Regions from separate parts of the Homo sapiens genome. Here regions 2, 3 and 4 are each linked to region 1. Evidence: fine-mapped expression QTL. A gene starts in region 1. Each other region holds a variant in brackets. All regions are shown on one strand. Distances are from middle to middle. Region 1 holds the start of FRMD3 (FERM domain containing 3). Region 2 overlaps FRMD3-AS1 (FRMD3 antisense RNA 1). Region 3 overlaps FRMD3 (FERM domain containing 3). Region 4 overlaps FRMD3-AS1 (FRMD3 antisense RNA 1).

Evidence for each region. PIP is the estimated chance that this variant, and not a neighbour inherited with it, causes the effect. A credible set is the group of variants that fine-mapping cannot tell apart.
Region 2: its variant is the best candidate, but not a certain one, in a credible set for the expression of FRMD3 in atrial appendage (GTEx, PIP 0.58).
Region 3: its variant is the best candidate, but not a certain one, in a credible set for the expression of FRMD3 in whole blood (INTERVAL, PIP 0.83).
Region 4: its variant is the best candidate, but not a certain one, in a credible set for the expression of FRMD3 in left ventricle (GTEx, PIP 0.70).

Annotation. Positions count from the first base shown.
Region 1 is chr9:83,535,024-83,541,006 of GRCh38, reverse strand. It overlaps FRMD3 (FERM domain containing 3), which reads left to right and starts at 2,606. Exons shown (of 14, transcript NM_174938.6): 1 at 2,606-2,922. The coding sequence starts at 2,776. RefSeq lists a silencer at 4,359-4,653.
Region 2 is chr9:83,234,630-83,240,612 of GRCh38, reverse strand. The region is part of intron 2 of FRMD3-AS1 (FRMD3 antisense RNA 1); the gene reads right to left. Among named protein-coding and RNA genes, the nearest start is that of FRMD3-AS1, 18 kb to the right of the region's middle. The variant T/AT (reference allele first, on the strand shown) is at 3,138.
Region 3 is chr9:83,261,549-83,267,531 of GRCh38, reverse strand. The region is part of intron 13 of FRMD3 (FERM domain containing 3); the gene reads left to right. The region is part of intron 2 of FRMD3-AS1 (FRMD3 antisense RNA 1); the gene reads right to left. Among named protein-coding and RNA genes, the nearest start is that of FRMD3-AS1, 45 kb to the right of the region's middle. The variant G/A (reference allele first, on the strand shown) is at 3,671.
Region 4 is chr9:83,226,757-83,232,739 of GRCh38, reverse strand. All of the region lies in intron 1 of FRMD3-AS1 (FRMD3 antisense RNA 1), which reads right to left. Among named protein-coding and RNA genes, the nearest start is that of FRMD3-AS1, 10 kb to the right of the region's middle. RefSeq lists an enhancer at 4,271-4,972. The variant A/G (reference allele first, on the strand shown) is at 3,578.

The sequences.
Region 1 (5,983 bases):
TTGAGTGACTAGGAATCATTCAAGTTTTCTTTTATAGTCCTATTCTTATTCCCAGATTCCCACTCTTTCCTGCTGATAATTATAAAATCTTGTGAGGCCGATAATTCAATTGACTTTGTAATTTGGCGATTTGTAGATGAAATTGTGAATTTGGTTTTTCAGTTTTGGCCTTGTGGCTCAATTAACAAGATATTCTTTGAGCTCTGTTGTTTGTAAAAATACAGTTGTTTAAAAGTCATAAGCTGATAATTTAGGACTTAGTGCATCACTACTTTTCTTTCAGTGGTCCAGTTTTAAACTCATCCCTTGAGTTCATTCTTTGAGTTCTTCCTAATCTTCATATTATTATTATTATTGTTGACAATGGCCAGTTGGTTTCCCAGAGCCTTGTCTTCATTGGGTAGTTCAATCCAGGTGACCATACTTGGTAATTTACCTAGCTGTCATGCCAAGTGCTTCCAGAGCCTGTATTTTCATACTAGTTGAATCTCAGCCTTTATTCCTAATCAGGCCAGACAACCAATCTCAGATTCTTCTCATTTCTTCAAAATTCTGTTTCTTACAGTCCCACATTGGGTTATCTTTATTCTGTCTTTTTCACTACTGTCCTTGTTGGTCTTATTTTGCTTCCTTGGAATTTGGGGTAACAATTTTTGGGTATTGATATGACTCTTTTGGAGCCTAACGGTCACTATAATAGGATGGACAAGTGTGTGTGTGGTCTTAAAAGAAAAGCATGGACTGTTTGGCTGGTGACTTTTCTTTGATCTCTGGGCTGTCTGCTCTTTTGGCTAGCAGAGATGATCCAGTTTTCAACTTGGGGCAGGTCCCATCCCTGCCACCTCATATGTGCATATGGGGATTTACAGATTACAGCTGTAAGATGTCCTCCACTGACCCGGTGTCATACCAGCTTCCCAGCCACCTGTGGGATGAACAGGTGTTCTCTCCTTTGAAATGAGAAAAGAAATGGAGAGACTTTTCAAAGATCCCCAGGATTAGCCAGTAGCTGGGCCAAGAATGAAATCCACATCTTCCCATACCCTCAATACTGACCTCTCCATCAGGATCTGCCCTAACATTTGAAGGGCCCAGCTCAAGAGCCTACATGAATGCCCCATACTATCATCTAAATATTCATAAGCAATAGTCAGCTATTGAGTGCTACATAAAACATTCTCTATCCTCCTATCTTGACAAATTGTTGCAATTTGGAATTTCCAGGAGCAGATACTGAGACTGAGTTTGTCCTGTGTGGTATTTATTAGTGATCAACAGGGAGAGGAGGCAGGAGCAGGCAGAGAGAGAAGTCCAAATGCAATGCGGACTCCCCCAAACCTTAGCCAACCCCACTAGGTGTCCTAGAGAATATATGGCCCACCAGACTGTCCAGGGCAGGTAAAATTTGTGTGCCACTCTTCCTCGACCCCCAGGACAGGGCATATCTTTGGATGAGGGGACTCTATGCAGGCACAAACCTTGAAAAAGCTGACAGCTGGTCAACACCTCCTCTTCTAACAAATGTTCCTTCCTAATGACCTGTTCTGCTCCGGCAAGAGCAACAGGGTGAGAGGACTTCCATCTCTCCCAGCTCCTGGACATTCTAGTGCTCACATTCAAGCTCCATACCCCTGACTCAACAGCTGCTCCTGGCCACTCTCGGGCCTACGGTACCTGACACAGTGGCTCTAGCCACCTTGGGGACAACAGAGAGGCAGGATACCTCCTACCTTCAACACCCTGGAGGCGCGTGGGGAATTCCAGAGTCCTCAATACCCAGAGATTGGACTAAAACGGGATGGGGCACATCCGCTTTGCCATTAGACCTCTTAATTCCTGAGCAACCGGGAACTGGAGGAGGTCTGTAAAGCAGGGGAGTAGGATAGGAACCTATCCCTCTTGCTCGGGTCAAAGGTATGCTATCAAAGATCACACTAAGATGTTGGGAGATTTAAAGGAGGATTTGCACATGGAAGGCTCTTTTTTGGAGAAAGAGACTGAGTCCTAGCTAGCATTAAATAAAACAATGGCTTAAACAATCTCCATGAGTACCAGAGATTTTTACTATTAGCGATATTCCTGGTGTAGCCGTGTCAGGGCTGTCACTCTCTCTGTCACTCGCCCTGGGCCCAGCAATCCTTTCCCGAGGCGGAATCCCCCTGGCGGTGTGGGTCAGGATCGCTCTCCGTCCCCTACCCGCGCCAGGTCCCTGGAGCTGAGCAGAGCAGGGCGCTGTCGAGCGCGTTGGGGAGCCGGGGCCGGGACGAGCACAACCGGGAGCCCGAGCGACAGCGGCCAGGGGAGGGAGGAGGCGGTGAGGCTGAGGAAGGCAGTCGGGCCCAGCTTGACGCAGCGGCGGCTGCGACTGAGCAGGCCACCACCAGGGCACCCGGGCCAGCCGCGCCAGCCATCCCTCCGCCTCCTCCTTCAGCTGCTCGGCGCGCGTGGGAGTGAGTGCGTCGCGAGCCCGCCGGGGGTCTCAGGCTCTGGGCGTCCTCGGCGAGCGAGCCCGGGCAGAGGGAGGCGCACGAGCGCGCGCGACAGAAGGAGGCGGGGAAAGGAGGGGGCGAGGCGGAGGCGAGCGAACAGAGGGAGGGACCCGCCCGCCGCGCCCCGGCCGCTGGGCATGTGTGTCCGCAGGCGCCCGACGCTGCCGATGTCCCGGGGCTGAGCCGCGCCCAGGTGTCCCGGACAGTGCGTGCGAGCGTGTGTGTCCGCGCAGGCGAGCACCGCGCCGGCCCTGAGCCTCCCGCTCGCTCCCCACGGCCGCGGTGCATGTTCGCCTCCTGCCACTGTGTGCCGAGAGGCAGGAGGACCATGAAAATGATCCACTTTCGGAGCTCCAGCGTCAAATCGCTCAGCCAGGAGATGAGATGCACCATCCGGCTGCTGGACGACTCGGAGATCTCCTGCCACATCCAGGTGCGCGTGGAACCGGGCGAGGGCGCGGGGCACACGCCGGGAGCAGGGCGGGGGGCCTTTGCGGTGGGCATGCGAGAACAAGGAACCCACTCCCGGAGGGGATTGGGGGACTGCTAGAAAGCCAGATTTCGATTCCTCAGGCCTCTGAGGGTGGGGGGCCTTATCCTGGCATGGAGGGGCATGGTGCCCTGCAAGCGCCAGGCACGCGTTATCCGCGCCCAGTCTCCTTCCCCTCGCGTGCACCCTGCGCGCGCGTCTCACTGCGCCCGGGCTAGGGGCGCGGGGCAGCTGCCTCCGGAGGGACTCTGGCCCCTCTGGGCCCTACTCCGCCAGGAGATGGGAGCTCCGAGGGCTGAGAGGGGCACCTGCATGTCGCCCACTGGTATTTCCTCCCTTCTTCCACGTGGAGAAGGCATGCATCAGCTGGGTTCACTCATTTCTGTCTCCCGCGCCCAGGCTCCGGAGACGCCCTCAGTCCCGGAACCTGCTTTCCGCTCCGTGTCGGTCCCCCTCACCCTCCGCCGGTGGTCTTTAGTTCTCCGCGTGGGGCGGTGGCGAAGTTTCCCCAGAGTGAGAGAGGCCGGGCTGCCCTGGGCGCCAGCCTTGAGGGATGGAGCGCGCGCTGCGCCGGACTGGAGCTACCTCGAAAGGAATGTGTGAAGTCTGAGTGTTTCGGAGAAAGGAAAAGGGATTGTGAGGCCAGCAAGTGGGGAGCCCTGCAGGAACCTGGGTCCTGGGTAAAAGAGCCCCGTGGAATCTTGGTGGACATTCACTGTCGCCCAAGTTGGAGGAGAAGGCGAGTTGTTTGGGAGAAGGCAGCTTTGCTGGCAGCCCTGTCCTCGGGTAGTAAGTGCCTCTGGGCTGTCAGGAGAGCTAGTGTGAGGTGCAAAGGTGTGTGTGTGCATGTGGTTGCGCGTGCGTGTGCATATTTGCTGTGGGTGAATATGTAGGCAGGTGGGAGCCCCTCTTCCAGGACCCCAAAGATGCCCCACTCGGTGCGCACACAATCAGGAAAGGTTGTGTCAGGGCTCAGCACAATTAACTTCTGACTTCTAAATCTATTTAACTGTTTATCTCTGGGATTTCCTTTCTCACCTACCCTAGTCGAGTCTTGAGGCTCTGGGACTGAGCTTTTTTTTTTTTTTTTTTTTTTTAGTGTAATACAGGGCACACCACCCATGTCAGTGGGAGGTGAGTGGGGCAGCATCTCCCAGAGTAGGAATCAGCCTCTAGGCTGTGCAAACCATGAAGGAATGAAAGGACTTTCCCTGTTTTATTTTTATTTAATTTTTGTTAGTGGGAGTGTGTGACATGTTGGGGGCAGTTGCAATTAATTTGTAACCTGACAGCCGGACAAGTGTCAAGGTAGGAATGTGATGCCCCATGATCTCCCAGGAAAGTAGGCTCCCATTGAATTTTCTGGGGGAGCTTGAATTTCATTCTGAGCTAAGCAGCACTGCTAAACTTAATAATAAAAGGATTAGCAGGATAGGCAGTGTTTCTACTGCCACAAGGGTTGCACAGAAGCATCTGGCATGTACTAATAGTCTTGTGATCCAGAGAGTGTGGACTGTGCACTTTGCTTTAAGTCCTAAAGTGGGTGTACAGGTCCTTTAACCCATAATGAATGTGTAGATGATGGAGGGGCCGTCAGGGAGAGAGGCTGTTGAGTTCTCCTCTGTCTCTCAGCCCTCTTCTGCCCTGTACCACTTGGTGTTGACATTTTTTTCCCCTCCCTCAGGATGAAGTCTTCCTTAGAATAATAAATATTCCCCAAAGGACATGTATTTGTTGTCTTGTGTTTTGAGAAACAATAAATTGTAGCCAGTCTAACAACAGTTTGAAAAACTCCAGTGCTTATGACCCAACTAGTGCCAAAGAGGTTAAAATGTTATGTTTCAAAATGTTGGCTTGGGCACTGATTTTTAAAAAATTATGATGTTTCATTTTGTGATTTGTCTTTTTCTGCCCTTTCTGCCCCCAAATTACAATTATTATTTAACCAATTAAAATAAATTAAAATATTTTATTTGGATAACTTTAGACCTCACACTTTCCTAGAGTACTCCAGACCAGGAATTGAAATTGCCCTTCCGGGTATCAGGTAACAAAGACTTCCCATTTGCTTAGAGTGAGAACAAAAGGATTAAAAAACAATGCGAAACAAAACCATTTGGAATTACTGGCACTTGTTCTGGGTGAATCCATCTGTGTTTGCTTCCTTCCTTCTATAGAACTACAAAGTTAAAGGATTGTATATATTGTCACAGAATGTCACCCTCTCTCCATAGCCCACATCTGCCTGTCTGCGTTAGGAGCTCTCATCCCTGGTGTCTGCCTGGCTCTGGAGCAGGGGTGTCCAATTTTCTGGCTTCCCTGGGCCACATTGGAAGAAGAAGAATTGTCTTGGGCCACACATAAAATACACTAACGCTAACGATAGCTGATGAGCTAAAAAAAAAAAAATCACAAAAAGTCTCATAATGTTTTAAGAAAGTTTATGAATTTCTGTTGGGCTGCATCCAAAGCTGTCCTGGGCCATGGGTTGGATGAGCTTGATCTAGAGGCTCTGTAGGAGGAGCAGGAGCTCTTGGACATGTGTTAGTTGTTCACTCCTGTTCACTACAGGAGTGCTGCCTATGGAGCCCCAAAATAAGTAGGGGAAACTCAAGCCACACATCCTTGGGAGCTCATTAGTCTGTGTTCTCTAGTAGGTAAGCATTCCAGATTCAAAGAAAAATGAGCCACTCAAACAGGTTTCTCTAGCAAGGTGCTGGAGAGTGGCCACACATGGTAGATGCAAGAGATGATAGAAACCTTCAGGACTATTGCTTGAGACAATGTGAATAGCTCTAGGTGCCATTTCTTGAGCATCTCTCATGAGCCAGCCTTTTCCACTCATTATGTCTGATCTCTACCACCAACCTTTGAGTAGGTATTATTCCCTTCTTTTGGGTAAGAAAACTGAGAAGCTAATAACTTAAGTGACTTGTTCAAGGCCACATCTCTAAAAAGAGAATGAGCAGCTGGAATTCAAATCCAGAATTGTCTGGATCCAAAG
Region 2 (5,983 bases), 300 kb after region 1:
CACACAGATGAGAGACAGAGAAGGGAACAGGGCCAAAATCATCTTTTTATCAGGAAACCACTCCTTTGATAACAACATGATTATATTCCTGAGAACAGAGCCCTCAGGACCAAATCACATTTTAAAGGTTCCACCTCTCAATTTTGTTACATTGGGGATTAAGAGAATAGAAAAACAATAGGTAAAATCTATAAAACCAAAAGTTCGTTCTTTAAAATGAAAAATGCCAATAAAATGAACAAGCCTTTAGCTAGATTAACCAAGGTAAAAAGACAGTATTAAAATTACTAAAACCAGGAATGAAATAGAGGATGTCATTATGGACCTTCCAGAAATAAAAAGGAATATAAGGAAACACTATGAAAAGTTGTGTATTAACAATTTATCTAACCTAGACAAAACAGAAAAACTTCTTGAGGGACACAAACTAACTTACAAAGAGATGGAAAATTGCAATAGATCTATAACAAGTAAAAGATTGAATTAGTAATAAAAAATTATTTCTTCAATGAAAAGTGCAGGTGATGATAGCTACACTGGTCAATCATACCAAACTCTTAAAAAACAAACAGCACTTCACAAACTGCCAAAAAACAGAAGGGAGGGGGCAATTCCCCATGCTCTGAGGTCAGTATCATTCTGATGCCAAAACCAAAGACATTACAAGAAAACAAAAGTGCTGACAAATGTATCCTATGACTATAGATGAAAAAAATCCCTAACAACAAAAAAATTACAATTGAACTGAATCCAGCAACATATGGGAAGGATTATATACCTTGATCAAGTGGGATTTATCCCAGGAATGCAAGGTTGTTTAACACATGAAAGTCAATCAGTGAAATATACCATGTTAGTAGAATAAAGGACAGAAATTGCATGATCCTCTCAACAGACGCAGAGAATGCACTTGACAAAATCCAACACTCTTTCACAATTAAAAAAAAATGAACAATGAATAGAAAAAAATATCCTCAATCTAGTAAAGACTGAAAACTCCACAGCTATCATACTTGAATTCAACTGAGGGGCGTAAGACAGAGTGCGAGACTGAGCAAGATTTAGAGCAGGAGTGACAGTTTATTTAAAAGCTTTACAGCAGGAATGACAGGAAGTAAAGTACACTTGGAAGAGGGCCAAGCAGGGGACTTGAGAAATCAAGTGCACTGTTTGACCTTTTAACTTGGGGTTTTATACATTGGCATGCTTCCAGGGTCTTGCATTACTTCTCCCCTGGGTCTTCCCTTGGGCTGAGCTATCTGCATGCACAATGTGGCTGCATGTGCAATATGTTCACTGAAATTGCACACATGCTCACTTGAGGCATTCCCTTACCAGTTTGTAGAGGAAGGTCATGTACCAGTTAAACTCCACCATTTTGTCTCTTATTGTGCATGATTGAGCCCATTTGTCCAACTCCTGAGATCTTTTTGGGAAGCTGCTGATAGCCAGTTTCAGGTTTTTTCTCTCTATTGGGAGATTGTCTCTCCCTGGTGCTGGCTGTGACCGATTATTTTAGAAAGACAGTTAAGAACCGCCTGACCATCACCTGATGTTCGCCTGACATTCCTGGTGTTTCCTGCCCTGTTCATGTCTGACTAGCTACTGACTGTAACAAGACTTGTACATTGTGATCAACAAAACTTCACTGAAAAAAAGAAGACCTAAACAAATGAAAAGACATCACATGTTCGTGGATGGAAAACTTAATATTGTTAAGATAGCAATACTCCTGAAATTGATTTTCAGATTCAAGGCAATCCCTAGCAGATGTCAGCTTCCTGTTTTGTGGAAATTGACAAATTGGTCCTAAAATTTTATATGGAAATGTAAAAGGTACAGACTAACCAAAATAATATTGAAAAAGAACAAAGTTGAAGGACTCGCACTTCCCAATTTCAGAACCTAATGCAAAGCTGCAGTAATCATGACAGTGTGGTACCAACATCAGGATAGACATATACATCCGTAAAATAGAACTGAGAGTCCAGAAACAAAACTATGCATTTGTGAAAAATTGATTGTGAACAAGATGACAAGACAATTCTAAGGGGAAAGAATAGTCTTTTCAACAACTGATATCTAACAGCAAAATCATAAAATTGGACCAATTTCTCACACTGTATACACAAATTAGCACAAAATAAATCAGAGACCTTGTGTTTAATAAAATTTACAAAACTTTTAGAAGAAACATAAGATCAGATCTTTGTAACCTTTGATTAGAGAGGATGGTTTCTAAGGACAGCAAAAGCACTAGAGACAAAATAAAAAATAGGTAAATTAGATAGTAATAGATAAATTTAAAAACTTTTGTGCTTTAAAAGACACTGTCAAGAAAAGTGAAAAGACAAAACACTGAAGGGATGAAAATATTTTTAAATCATACATCCGATAATGAATTTGTACCCATAATACATAAAGAATACTTACAACTCAGTAATAAAAAACATAACCAATTTTTAAAGTAGGAAATGTTATCACAATAGACATTTTGGTAAAGGAAATATGCAAATGGATAGTAAGCACACGAAAAGATGTCCAATATCATTAGTCATTAAAGAAATGCAAATCAGTGCCACATTGAGATTCTACTTTACACCCACAAGAATGGCTATAATAAAAAGACAGGCCACGAAGTGTTGCTGAGGATGTGGATAAATTGAAACCCTCATATATTCCTGGTAAAAATGTAAAATTGTGCAGCTACTAGGCTGGGCGCGGTGGCTCACACCTGTAATTCCAGCACTTTGGGAGGCCGAGGCGGGCAGATCACGAGGTCAGGAGATCGAGATCATCCTGGCTAACACGGTGAAACCCCGTCTCTACTAAAAATACAAAAAATTAGCCGGGCGCTGTGGCGGGCGCCTGTAGTCCCAGCTACTCCGGAGGCTGAGGCAGGAGAATGGCGTGAACCCGGGAGGCAGAGCTTGCAGTGAGCCGAGATCGCGCCACTGCACTCCAACCTGGGCGAAAGAGCGGGACTCCGTCTAAAAAAAAAAAAAATTGTGCAGCTACTTTGGAAAACAGTTTCGTAGTTCTTCAAAAAGTTAAGCATAAGGTTACCATACAAGCCAGCAATTCCACTCTTAGGTATATACTCAAGAGAACAGAAAACATATATTTACACAAAAAAA[T/AT]GGGTAATTTTCATAGCAGCACTTTGCATAATAGCACAGAAGTGGAAACAACCCGTATGTCCATCGGTTCGTAAATTGCATAAACAAATGTAGTGTATCCATTCCATAAAAATGAATGAAGTATTGGTACACGCTACACCATGGATGAACTTTGAAAACATTATGCTAAGTAAAAGAAGCCAAAAGCAAAAGGCCATCTATTGCATGATTTGATTTATATAAAATGTCCAGAATAGGCAAATCTATAGAGACAGAAAGTAGATTAGTGATTTCCACGGGTAGGGAGAATGAAGAATGACTGCTAATAGGTACAGAGTTTCTTTTTTGGGTGATAAAATTTTTCTTTGAATTATGTAGTTGCGATGGTCGCATGACTCTGTGAACAAAGACCAATGAATTTTATGCATTATTTATGGTATGTTAATTATAGCTCAACAAAGCTGTTAGCAAAAATTATATTTGTTGTGGTTCACTATGTTATTTTTTAACATATTTTGTGAGGAGTACGAGTTGAGTAGCTTTATTATAACCAAGAACCTTTCCATTTCTATTTGTCAGCAAGTTTTGTCAGTACTTAATTCTATCAAAATGAAAAATAGATAATGCTGAACCCAGTTTCATTTTAGCGATAAGTAATATTTGTGCATAAAGATTAAATAATTTGATTTATACCATTGATATTTACTTCTAATAAATTTTTAACTTTTGTTCAATAGTTACTTAAGCTATTATGAAATAACTATTAATATTTTCTTATGAACTATGAATATTAATATTTTAATAGATTCTACAAAAACTATTAAAAACAAAAATTTTAATTTTTTTACACAAAATAATTTTGTGCATCATTATTAGTGCTTCTGTAAAAATGACAAAAGGCCAGAGTATAAAATTGCTGCCTAGGAGATACTGATATAAAGATAGAAGTAGCTGGCATATCTGGAACAGAAAGTCGGTGTAATATGATGGCTAAGAGCTCAGGCTCTCCAGCCAGATGGCCTCAGCTCTGGTCTCAGCTTTCCTGCTCTTCTTAGGTGTAACTTTAGGTAACTCATTTGATCTCTTGAATTCTTGGCATCCTCATCTTTAAAATTATGTTTAACTACAGCACTTATCTCAGAGCTGTTATGGAATTTAAAAATAAGTTAGAATTTGCAAATCCCTTAGCAAAGTCTTGGACATGTAGTAACTACTTGAGAAATGCTAGGAGTTAAGGCCCATAATCTGGCACCTCCAGGTCATTCTAGACTCATCGTAACCATTTCACTCTTTGAGGACATCCTGTTCTACTGAAGTAATAGCATCATGGTGGCAATGCATAACAAAATTGGATTTGGAAGTTTCAGAAGATATAACAAGAACCAGAATTTGCTTCTAAAAAACATCTATTTTTCTTCTACATTTATTTATAAACAAAACATCTCGTTGCCTATAACGTGGATACACATCCAAAATAGTAAGACATCAGAAAATAGAATACATCAAAATTCCTTTCAGGAGGAAACTGTGTTTGTAAGAAAGAAATGTTTTTTTCTAAGTTGTTCAAAGTAGGGAGTATATTGCAAATGTATAGTCAAGTTACAAATGCAAGGTCTCCTGATTTCTTTCTCTGCGTGACTTTCTTTTTTCTGGTCCTCTGTCCTGTGCTATTTACCTTTTGATAAATGTTCGATGTGGAAGTTGATTCTCAGAACCCTTGGCACAATAGCCTTGGTTACCCACATCCATTTCAAGAGCTCCTAACAGTTTGGAAACACTGGATCTTGCTTTGGGTGCAGTTGAATCTTCAACCCCTGTGGTGAGACCTATTTCTATGTAGATTAGAAAGAAACAATGATAGCACAGTGATTGCAAAGATGAAGAAACAGGATTTGAATTCATTTAATTTCACCATTCAGTGTGACTCAATCACAATTTAAAAATTTTTTAATTTAAAATTTAAAATGTTTGCCAACTATGAAGTGTAATATTTTTGTTTTATAAGTGCAAATTTTATTTCATACATATTTTCTGAATATGATAACATTTTAAAATTGCAATGTATTCTTTTTAATTGTTAATTATTTGTCTTCAAACAAAAGAACAAATAAGAAAACAAAATCTCACATTAGTAATTGCCTAAATTAGGTCGGGCGCAGTGGCTCATGCCTGTAATCCCAGCACTTTTGGAGGCCGAGGTGGGAGCATGGCTTGAGCTCAGGAGTTTGAGATCAGCCTGCGCATCATAGCAAGAGTCCATCTCATTTAAAAAAATTTAAAATGTAATTGCCTAAACTATACTTCTGCAGACATTTTAGTTTTATTTAAACCTAGTTATTGGACTGTCATTTACGTAAATATTAATATATCAGACTGTAACCAAAGGATCAAAGTTCAGCCATTTAGGTGGATATAAAAATTAATAAAAAATAGTTGTAGGCATTTCCTTTTATTTTAGAAACTTATATAATTATATATAAGATTATACATAGTTTAATAGAACATTTTCACTGCTTTGTTTTTCTGAGCATTATTTGTGTATATATATAATCCATAATTATGTATGATATTGTCAATTACACGTATTATAAAGACATAATTATCATCATACTCATGGCCATTATTGAAAATAATTTTGTTGTATAGAGAAGGGAGGTGTTAAAAAATGACTCCTCCGGGTGTCACATATATTAGATATTCCACAGGACACAGTCTTGATATCAGCATGGTTCCTGAGAAGATTGGAAAGCTTGGAGTAGGGTCAAACAGTGACTCAGCGACTGATAGAATTGGCATAGAGTCAGAGTGGGGGAGTCAAGTTTGATTTTTAAATGCCTAGTTTGGGTGAGTGGGAAAAGACAATGTCA
Region 3 (5,983 bases), 270 kb after region 1:
TTTTAGAAGAAAAAGTGGGTTATTTCTCCATTATGGAATTATCCAGTTGTCATCTTATCTTTTGGGGACATTTGATTCTTAGGAAATGATGAGGCATTTGGACAGGGTCCTCTGTTTTGGTCCGGAAGGTTTAGAAAGGCTAGAGTAGGGATGATGCATAATCTTTCATTGTTTGTTAGAGGGGTGAGTGGAGAGTTTAAAAATAGCGTCCCCTCCCTCCTCCCCTCCCAATGCTGATCCCTCATGAGTTATTTCTGTTGGCCGCATTAGGAACCTGACATTTGATTCATTCAGTGGGTCCTGCCTAGGTCCTTTAAAACAGAATGGACTGTTAGGGAAAGGCTGCCCTGGGCCATGCAGGCCGAGGAGACCAAGGGGATTGGAATAACCAGTATGGCAAAATGCTTGGTCAAGATCCAGACTCGACGAAGCCTCCAATTGCACATGGTGAACCACTGCAACAGTAATGTGTTTGTTCGTCTGCTGAGACTCGGCTCCAAGGTCACAGCTCGTAACACTGGTATGTGTGGTGCCCTGGGCTGTCATCCTGTTCCTGAAGTGTGCGGGCTTCCAGCTTCCTGCTCACTGCTGGTGGAGAGAGGCCCAGGGTGAATTTGGTGTCAGAGGTTTTTGATAAGGATGAAAAGAGAGAGAGGAAGGGAGAAAAGCAGAGACGAGTGGGAAGGAGGGTGAGCAAGCCAGTGCAAAGGGGAAACAGGAGGGTGTGTTCCAAATGATATAAAGTTGTCATAAATACAAATTACACCCTAGTCAGCAGTGAGTCAGGAGGGAGAGGGAGGCAGTGGTGGTGTGTACCTCCAGATTGTTCCATAACATGAGAAGATTAGGGAGAAGGCAGAATGGATGATCACAACACGCTCCCCCTCCTTTCATTGTTGAAAGGGTCAGAGCTCAGATCTGCTTGCTTGCTGGGGTGAGGCGGAGCACCACTTTTATCCTCAAGGCAGAGCTTTACTCAAAATATTGGCCAAAGAATTGGAACTGACCTTCTGCCAATTTCCTTTTCATTGTAAATATATTTTGTTATTTTATGGTCCTTGAGGGAAATAGGAATTGAAATAGGAACTTAAAAAGTTAGAGCTTACAGCAAGAAAGAAGCTGTGGCTATATGTATAAATGTGGTTTTTACCAATTGATTAACACAAAATACAACCTGGAAAATGTCTGTAATTGGCTATATCTCATGCACATGTGTGAAACTGACTTCTAAGTGAATTGAGACGAAATTGATTATATTTGTATAATGACATAATACATGATGTGTTCTTGTATAAAAGAGTTTTTAAAAGAACAAATATATAGATGCTTTCCGTTAATACTCCCAATAGTTGATCTATGAATACTGCCACATGGGATATAGGATTTTTTTTTTTTATAAATGGGATTGTTCAAGATATATTATTGCAGAATTAGTTTTCTTACTTTATCATATGACTTGAAGGACTTTCCATATCCATACATATTAATATACATCCTTTTTATAAATGGCTGGATAATATTAGGTAATATAAAGATATCATAACTCAGTTATTTAATTACCAAATTATTGTTGGAAATGGTTATGGCTCGTTTTTTGGCTGTAACAGATGGTACTGCAATGCATATGTATACAGAGGCATTTCTCTTTAATAGATGCTTCAAAGTATAATTGTTGGGTTGAAGGATATACGAATTGTAACTTTTAATGGAAATGGGCAAATTATCCTCTAAAAGCAAATTCTAACAAGGTGAGTATGAGCTTGACTATTCCCCCACATAATCACTCACCCTGATATGGCCAGTTTCTTAAAAGTTTTGCAAAATGGTTGAAAGGAAAATGAGATTTCATTGTTTTAATTTGCATATCCCTTTTTATCAGTGAAGATGAGGATCTTTTCAAATAATTGTGTATTTTCATTTCTTCTTTGCAGAACTGCCTATTTGTTTACTTAGTACATTTCTATTGTGTTTTTGTCCTTTCCTTATAGATTGTAGTATTTCTTTTATAATGTGAATATTAATCCTTTATATTTTACAAATGTTAATGTTTTCTCTCCTAATTGGTTCTTGGCTTTCAACTTTTATTTAATGTTAACTTTATGACACAGGCACTTTTTTTTTTTTTTTTTTTTTTTTAAGAGTCTCGCTCTGTTGCCCAGGCTGGAGTGCAGTGGCACCATCTCGGCTCACTGCAAGCTCCACCTCCCGGGTTCACACCATTCTCCTGCCTCAGCCTCCCGAGTAGCTGATATTACAGGCGCCTGCCACCACGCCCGGCTAATTTTTTGTATTTTTAGTAGAGACGGGGTTTCACCGTGTTAGCCAGGATGATCCCAATCTCCTGACCTCGTGATCCGCCCGTCTTGGCCTCCTATAGTACTGGGATTACAGGCATGAGCCACCGCACCTGGCCGACACGGGCACTTTTTATATGCACAGAGAACTTCTGTATGTGCAAACTATTTGCTTTCTGTATATTTTAGGTTTCTGTTTTTATGTTAGTTTTCCCCATGCCAAGATTATAAAAGTGTTTCCTGTTTTTATTCTTCATAATTAATGCATTTACTTGAACTCTATGAAATTGCTGATAATAACTGCTTATGACCTTCAAAATTGGCAATTTCACGTGGTATCTAATTTTTTTTTTAGTTTAACCCTTTATCTTCTTAGGAATTTTTACACGTGCATGACATGGTATAGGGATATACCTTCCCCCCTCCCCCCACAATTGGTTAGCAACTTTTTGCAAAACTTTTTCATAAACAAATTTTCCATTATATTAAAGGGTATATTTCTGAATTATATCTTTTATTATTCCTGCTCCATTACTATACAGTATAGTTTTAATATCAGGTAGGTCAGGTTTCCCCTGCATTGCTTTTTTTCAAAGGAAGTTATACTTTTAGAATGATTTTTAGGTTCACAGTAAAATTAAAAGGAAGGCATAGAAATTTTCCACATATGGGGAATTTCCCTCACACATGCTCAGCCTCCCCCATCATCAACATCCCACACAAGAGAAGTACATTTGTTACACTTGATGAGCCTGCATTGAGACATCATGACTATTCAAAGTTGATCGTTTGCGTTAGGGTTCACCTTGGTGGTGTACATTCTGTGGGTTTGGACAAATGTTTAATGGCATGTATCTACCCCTGTTGTATCATACATAATAGTTTGACTGCCCTAAAAGTTCTGTGTTCCACCTATTTCTCTCTCTCTTCCCCTAATTCCTGGCAACCACTGGTCTTTTTATGATATTCATAATTTTGCCTTTTTCAGAATGTCAATTAGTTGGAATCATACAATATGCAGTCTTTTCAGACTGGCTTCTTTCACTGAATAATATGCATATAAGCTTCCTCTATAGCTTTTCATGGCATTTCTTAGCACTGAATAATATTCCATTGTCTGGATGTGCTCACTGATTTATTTTCCAGAAGTTTTTGATTATTAATGTGTACATTTACCATTTGTCTTTTTTGAAAGTGTGTTGGATTTTCTATTGAAATTGCATCAAATTTTAGATTAATGAGAGGAGAGCTGAATTTTCAATGTATCAAGGCCACTATTCAGGAACAATATTATGTTTTTCTATTTATTGAGATTTTCTTTTATGCTACTTTGTTATATTTTAACATTGTCCTCATGCAAGTTTTCCAGGCTTCTT[G/A]TTATGGATATTCCTGGATATATATGGATGTTTTAATTTGTGCATTTGGCTATTTTGAATGATACTTTCCATTATCATTTTTTATATTGTCTCTTCTGTATGCAGTAAACCACCTGCTTTAATATGTTGATCTTGCATTCCAACACCTTTTTAAACTCTTATTAATTGTCCTGTTTCATTTTCATCTCTTTTCTATGTAGATAATTCTATTATCTGGAACTAGAGTTTTGTGCCTTACTTTCCAATATTTACACTTCTTATTTTTTGTCTTCATCATATTGCATTAGCTAGGGCCAATACTGATGTGTGGTGATAATTCTTTGTAATGTTCCTGACTTTGGTGGGAATTCTTCCAACGTTTTGCTATTATATAATGTTTGCCATGACATGTAATGATTTCTACAATTCTCTAGTAGATATTTCAAGTCCCTTCCTTTCAGGAGATAAAATTTTAGTGGAAAAACCCATAATAAATCTGCAGCACAGTGTAATGACTGACTGTGAAGATAAAGAGATCCAGAAGATGGTATGACAGCTGCATCACTTAGGATGCCATCATCAGCAAGTAATGAGGAATTCTAATTAGCACTGGTTTAAATAATAAGGTGATTTATTATCCAAGACAAGTCCAGAGTCAGAGAGGATTCCAGGGTTGAGGACCAGTTTCATTTTATCTCTACATCACTCTTCTCAGTCAGCCAAGCTTCCCCTCATGCCGTTGCTGTCAGCACCATAGGACGGCTGCCAGTTTCTGCTGTTTCTTTCAGTTACAACAATGTCAACAGATAAGGAGTCTGTACCATTCCAGGATGATCTTCTTAGAAGTAAAAACCTTTCTCAAAAATCCATCCCCTCAGGCCCCCTCCCCTCTTCCCCTTTGATTTTTATTTTCAGGGTTGGCCCATATGCCCGTTTTAAAACCAAATGTGACCAAGAGACTGGAATTACCACGACTGGCTTAGACTAATCATTTGGAGAGAAATGGGCCATAAGGAGTCAACCATGAAAAGTACCAGATAAGTAGCATATATCTCAGTCCGGGAGTGGGGGATAGGAGAGCCTTCCCAGAGGACATAACACATAGGGTCTTAGAGGATGAGTAAGAGCTATCTGGGTGCAGAGGACATTCCAGGAAGAAGTAGCAGTCTGTGCAAAGACACAGAGGCATGACATAGCATGACACATATGGGAACCCCTCAATAGGTGGGCAGGGAGGAAGCGTATGTGGTAGAGTAATGCTTTTTGTACCAGGCTAAAGAGTTTAATTTAATATTTAACCTGAAAGGCTGAGAAACCTTTTAAGAAGAGGACTGATATAAATAATTAGGCATTTAAAAATGATTATTCTGGAAACAACTTACAATAAGCTGGACTGAAATCAAGGAAACCAGTTAGGAAGCCATTGCTATCATCCAGTTAAGAAGTGATAAGAATGGAGAGGCAGGGATAACTTTGAAAATGAAGAAGGTGGCAGAGTTTGCAGAAGTTAATGACAGATGTGAGCAGTGCATGAAAACAAGTAATTTTGGCCAATCCTTGGATTGCTGATATAAGAAACTGAAGAAAATATGGTGTCATTTACTACATAGTGTGTGTTATTGGAGGTAAAGAGTTGGGAGGGAGATGATGCATTTGGGTTTGGATGTATTGAAGTCGATGTTCCTATGTACAGTTGCCTGGTAAATCTCATTGGAGGGTTCTGAGTTGAGATAGACCAGAGATTCAGCAACATGGATTTTCCAAACTAAGTTGTGTTCTATGTTCTCTGGGAGAATTAATTTGAGAAATATTGAGTTACATGAAACTGATTTCTTCTATTCAGGACCTTGCAGACATTTTTATATACTAGTAGTAATATTATTGAGTGCTTACCAGTGTCAGGCACTTTGCATGTATTAACTCAGGTATTCCTCTCCACACAATATCTGCATGCAGTATGTGCTGAAATTTTCCCCATTTTACAGATGAGGAAACTGGGAATAGCACAATTAGGTAATTAAGAAACTGTCGGTGGCAATTAGTACAAAGCCAGGATTCGAACCCAGAAAGGTGACTTCAGAGTTTGGATTTTTAACCTTGATGGTAATATCCAAAAGAGTGATAGAGTGTGCAGTTTCCCAAACTTAGCTGACCATGGAACACTCTTTTCAAGGGACAGCTGGCAGAACCTTAAGGGACACTGGTGACCTGTAGTACCAGGTTGAACAATACTGTAGTAGCATATTGGAGCCATAAATATGGTTGAAACACCAAGAAAGAGGGTACAGAGCAAGAAGAGCAGAGAGTTTAGGCCCTCACAAGTAGTGAAGAGAC
Region 4 (5,983 bases), 310 kb after region 1:
ACATACCAGTGATTCCTATTCCAGTGGCCGCCATGCTGCTGAGCATGTGGTCAGGATTGTTGGTAGAAGGCTAACCTGGGTCTCAGAGATTCAGTCAACTATGGGGCCTAGGAAAGATATTCTATAAAGGTGTCCCTGCCTTGAACAAGGAGCTTGGTAAACATATTCTTCGGTGGAGGAAGTGATTTTAAGCAGAAGGAATTATAGGGAAGGTTTTGGAAAAGGGAATGTACCAAAGGAGGGAATTTAGGGGGATAGAGAGCATAGTCAAATTTAGCTTCTGTGTCTTCCAGTGTGAGTTGGTTCCCATGAGTTGGAGAAGTGATATAGAAGACCATAGAATAGAAAACATAGCCAAGGCCATCTTCAAATATTTTTCCCTATTGGCACTTTTTCAGAGGGTTCAATCAGCCCTAAAACTTCCTTCCTCTTCCATGGGATAGTTTCTCCGGACTGTGCTAAGTCTTCCTGAAGTGGAATGTTCTTTGCCTTTCTGTTTTTCTCTCTTTCTATGTATGTGTGTACAGATACACACACACACACACACACACACACACACACACACAAAAGGCCAGACATTTCTATAACTTATTCTCTAAAATTCACTTCATTTGGGTCTTTCATTACAAAAAAGGCTCTGCCTTCTTTCCAATTAAAACAATTGATGATGAAAAGAATCCAGATCCATGGCAGTAGGCTTGATAAAGAATTGGTAAAGAAAGTTACAAAGAGCAAAATAAAAACCACCCATAATCTTACTCCCCAGGAATAACCAATGCTAACTTTGGATTTTAATTTTTCAGAATTGGAATAATGCTAAGTCCTTCAATGTGGGGCAGAAGGACTAAGCAGAGGGTCTCTCAGAGTGTTCTGCTTTATAGTTTTTCACAATGAAAATACACCTATCTGTCTTGATCCCAGGCTTTCTGCTGCTACCAAATGCCTACCTCTAACATCCCCTATGGCAGGAGAGGCTCTCATTTTAGGAAGACCCTATTTACTCTGGCACATGACTTCTCCATTCTACTATTTTATGTATCCTAGTTGGCTGCAAGCATCCAATTCTTCTGACGCACAGCCTCAGAATCTTGTCCCTGGGACCCAGCTGTTGGCCATCCCATTGGCCTCTTGGTGTGGCCCGTTGCTTTAGTTCCAACTGCAACAAAAGTCAGTTTCTCTTTTCAACTGCTGATTTTTGGCTTCTCTAAACAGCATGCCCATCATGTCTTGGGCCCCTAGCCCACAGGTCCTGCCAAAGGATTAAGTTTCCAAAAGTTTGGCTTGTTGTGTCCAGATCAAATTTAAGTTGGGTGCAAATTGCTCCCTTCATGGGAGTCCACATGGACTGCTCTACTCCTCCACCAGCAGCAGATCATCTAAATCCTTTTGCAGACATGCTAATTCTAGCTTGAAGGAAAGAGTCTACGTTCCTCCAGGGGGAGCTCCATAAATAGCTCCAAGGACAAGAGAAAGGCATGTGCCCTATCTTCCTCCAGGGGGAGCTCCATAAATAGCTCCAAGGACAAGAGAAAGGCATGTGCCCTATCTTCTTCTTAGACATTACTTTCTATTTAAGTAGGACTGGCTCCCTTTGATCTCTGCCTCTTTGCTTGCATACAGGTTTCCTTTACAGACATGCTTCATTCCACTGTGCTCTGCTTTATTGTGCTTTGCAGATATTGTTGTTTTTTACTTTGAAGGCACACCCTGCGTCAATAAGTCTGTCGGCGCCATTTTTCCAATAGCATGTGCTCACTTGGTGTCTTTGTGTCACATTTTGGTAATTCTCACAATATTTCAAATTTTCTCATTAGTATTGTATCTGTTATGGTTGTCTGTGATCGATGATCTTCGATGTTCCATTGTAGTTGTTTTGGGGAACCACGAACCAAACCCCCAGAAGACAGTGAACTTAATTAGTAAATGTTGTATGTGTCTTGACTGCCTCACTGACCAGCTGCCAGCTGTTCCCCCATCTTTCTCCTTTGCCCCAGGCCTCCCTATTCCCTGAGATACAGCAATATTGAAATTAGGCCAAGTAATTACCCTACAATGGCCTCTCTAAGTGTTCAAGTGTAAGGAAGAGTTACACATCTCTCACTTTAAAACAAAAGCTAGAAATGATTAGGCCTAGTGGTGAAGACATGTTGAAAACTGAGATAGGCCAATAGCTAGGCCTCTTGCACCAGTTAGCCAAGTTGTGAATGCACAGAAAAAGTTCTTAAAGAAAATTGCAAGTGCTACTCCAGTGAACATACTAATGATAAGAAAGCAAAACAGCCTTACTGCTGAGATGGAAAAAGTTTTAGTGTTTTGGATAGAAGGTCAAACCAGCCACAACATTCCCTTAAGCCAAAACCTGATCCAGAGCAAGGACCTAGATCTTCAAGTCTATGAAGGCTGAGAGGGGCGCAGAAGCTGAAGAAGAAAAGTTGAAAACTAACAATGGTTTGATTCATGAAGTTGAAGAAGCCGCCTCCATAACATAAATGTGCAAGGTGAAGCAGCAAGTGTTATTGATCTCTAGCTAAGGTCATTGATGAAGGTGGCTACACTAAACAACCAATTTTCAATGTAGACAAAACAGTCATCTATTGGAAGAAGATGCCATCTAGAACTTTCACAGGTAGAGAGGAGAAATCAATACCTGATTTCAAACCTTCAGAGGACAGGCTGACTCTCTTGTTAGGGGCTAATGCAGCTGGTGACCTTAAGTTGAATCCAATGTCTGTTTACCATTTAGAAAATCCTTAGAGCCCTTAAGAATTATGCTAAATTTGCTCTGCCTGTGCTTTATAAATGGAACAACAAAGCCTGGATGAGAGCACATCTGTTTTCATCATGTCTCACTGAATATTTTAAGCACACGGTTGAGACCTACTGCTCAGAAAAGAAGATTTCTTTAAAAAATATTACTGTTAATTGACAATGCACTTGGTCGCCCAAGAGCTCTGATGGAGATGTACAAGGAGATCAGTGTTGTTTTCTTGCCTGCTAACATCACATCCATTCTGTAGCCCATTGATTAAGGAGTAATTTTGAATTCCAAGTCTTATTATTTAATAAATAAACTTTGGAAGGCTATAGTTTCCATGGATAGTGATTCCACTGATGGATCTGGATAAATGGAAAAGCTTCTGGAAAGGATTTACCATTCTAGATGCCACTGAGAATATTTATGTTCATCAATAGCAAAGTCATGGAATCAACCTAAGTGTCCATCAATGTTTGATTGGATAAAGAAAATGTGGTATATAGAAACCATGGAATACTATACAGCTTTCTAAAAGAATGAACTTATGCCCTTTGCAGCAACATGGATGGAGCTGGAGGCCATTATCCTAGGTGAAATAACTCAGAAACAGAAAATCAAATACTGTGTCTTCTCACTTACAAGTGGGAGCTAAACAATGGGTACACATGCACATAAATTTGGAAACAACAAACACTAGGGTTTCCAAAATGGGGGAGGGTGGAAGAGGGGTTGGTGAGGGTTGATTTCATGGGTTATACCTATTGAGTAGAATGTTCAATATTTGGGTGATTTGTTCACTTGAAGCCCAAACTTCACCATTAT[A/G]CAATATATCCATGTAACAAACCTACACATGTACCCCTGAATCTAAAATAAAAATAATAACAAAAATGAACATTGTGACTCATGAAAGGAGATCAAATTGTCAACATTAACATAAATTTGGAAGACGTGGATTCCAATCATCCTGAATGACTTTGAGTTCAAGACTTCAGCGGGGACAAGCACTGCAGATGCGTTAGAAATAGCGAGGAAATGAAGATGGCCGAATAGGAACAGCTCCGGTCTACAGCTCCCAGCGTGAGCGACGCAGAAGAAGGGTGATTTCTGCATTTCCATCTGAGGTACCGGGTTCATCTCACTAGGGAGTGCCAGACAGTGGGCGCAGGTCAGTGGGTGCGCGCACCGTGCGTGAGCCGAAGCAGGGCGAGGCATTGCCTCACTTGGGAAGCGCAAGGGGTCAGGGAGTTCCCTTTCCGAGTCAAAGAAAGGGGTGACGGACGGCACCTGGAAAATCGGGTCGCTCCCACCTGAATACTGTGCTTTTCTGACCGGCTTAAAAAACAGCGCACCATGAGATTATATCCGGCACCTGGCTCGGAGGGTCCTACGCCCACGGAGTCTCGCTGATTGCTAGCACAGCAGTCTGAGATCAAACTGCAAGGTGGCAGCGAGGCTGGGGGAGGGGCGCCTGCCATTGCCCAGGCTTGCTCAGGTAAACAAAGCAGCTGGGAAGCTGGAACTGGGTGGAGCCCACCACAGCTCAAGGAGGCCTGCCTCCCTCTGTAGGCTCCACCTCTGGGGGCAGGGCACAGACAAACAAAAAGACAGCAGTAACCTCTGCAGACTTAAATGTCCCTGTCTGACAGCTTTGAAGAGAGCCATGGGTCTCCCAGCACGCAGCTGGAGATCTGAGAACCGGCAGACTGCCTCCTCAAGTGGGTCCCTGACCCCTGACCCCCGAGCAGCCTAACTGGGAGGCACCCCCCAGCAGGGGCACACTGACACCTCACAGGGCAGGGTATTCCAACAGACCTGCAGCTGAGGGTCCTGTCTGTTAGAAGGAAAACTAACAAACAGAAAGGACATCCACACCGAAAACCCATCTGTACATCACCATCATCAAAGACCAAAAGTAGATAAAACCGCAAAGATGGGGAAAAAACAGAACAGAAAAACTGGAAACTCTAAAAAGCAGAGCACCTCTCCTCCTCCAAAGGAACGCAGTTCCTCACCAGCAAGGGAACAAAGCTGGATGGAGAATGACTTGGACGAGCTGAGAGAAGAAGGCTTCAGACGATCAAATTACTCTGAGCTACGGGAGGACATTCAGACCAAAGGCAAAGAAGTTGACAACTTTGAAAAAAATCTAGAAGAATGTATAACTAGAATAACCAATACAGAGAAGTGCTTAAAGGAGCTGATGGAGCTGAAAACCGAGGCTCGAGAACTATGTGAAGAATGCAGAAGCCTCAGGAGCTGATGCGATCAACTGGAAGAAAGGGTACCAGCAATGGAAGATGAAATGAATGAAATGAAGCGAGAAGGGAAGTTTAGAGAAAAAAGAATAAAAAGAAATGAGCAAAGCCTCCAAGAAATATGGGACTATGTGAAAAGACCAAATCTACGTCTGATTGGTGTACCTGAAAGTGATGGGGAGAATGGAACCAAGTTGGAAAACACTCTGCAGGATATTATCCAGGAGAACTTCCCCAATCTAGCAAGGCAGGCCAATGTTCAGATTCAGGAAATACAGAGAACACCACAAAGATACTCCTTGAGAAGAGCAACTCCAAGACACATAATTGTCAGATTCACCAAAGTAGAAATGAAGGAAAAAATGTTAAGGGCAGCCAGAGAGAAAGGTCGGATTACCCTCAAAGGGAAGCCCATCAGACTAACAGCGGATCTCTCAGCAGAAACCCTACAAGCCAGAAGAGAGTGGGGGCCAATATTCAACATTCTTAAAGACAAGAATTTTCACCCCAGAATTTCATATCCAGCCAAACTAAGCTTCATAAGTGAAGGAGAAATAAAATACTTTACAGACAAGCAAATGCTGAGAGATTTTGTCACCACCAGGCCTGCCCTAAAAGAGTTGCTGAAGGAAGCTCTAAACATGGAAAGGAACAACCAGTATCAGCCACTGCAAAATCATGCCAAAATGTAAAGACCATCGAGACTAGGAAGAAACTGCATCAACTAACAAGCAAAATAACCAGCTAACATCATAATGACAGGATCAGATTCACACATAACAATATTAACTTTAAATGGAAATGGACTAAATGCTCCAATTAAAAGACACAGACTGGCAAATTGGATAAAGAGTCAAGACCCATCAGTGTGCTGTATTCAGGAAACCCATCTCACGTGCAGAGACACACATAGGCTCAAAATAAAAGGATGGAGGAAGATCTACCAAGCAAATGGAAAACAAAAAAAGGCAGG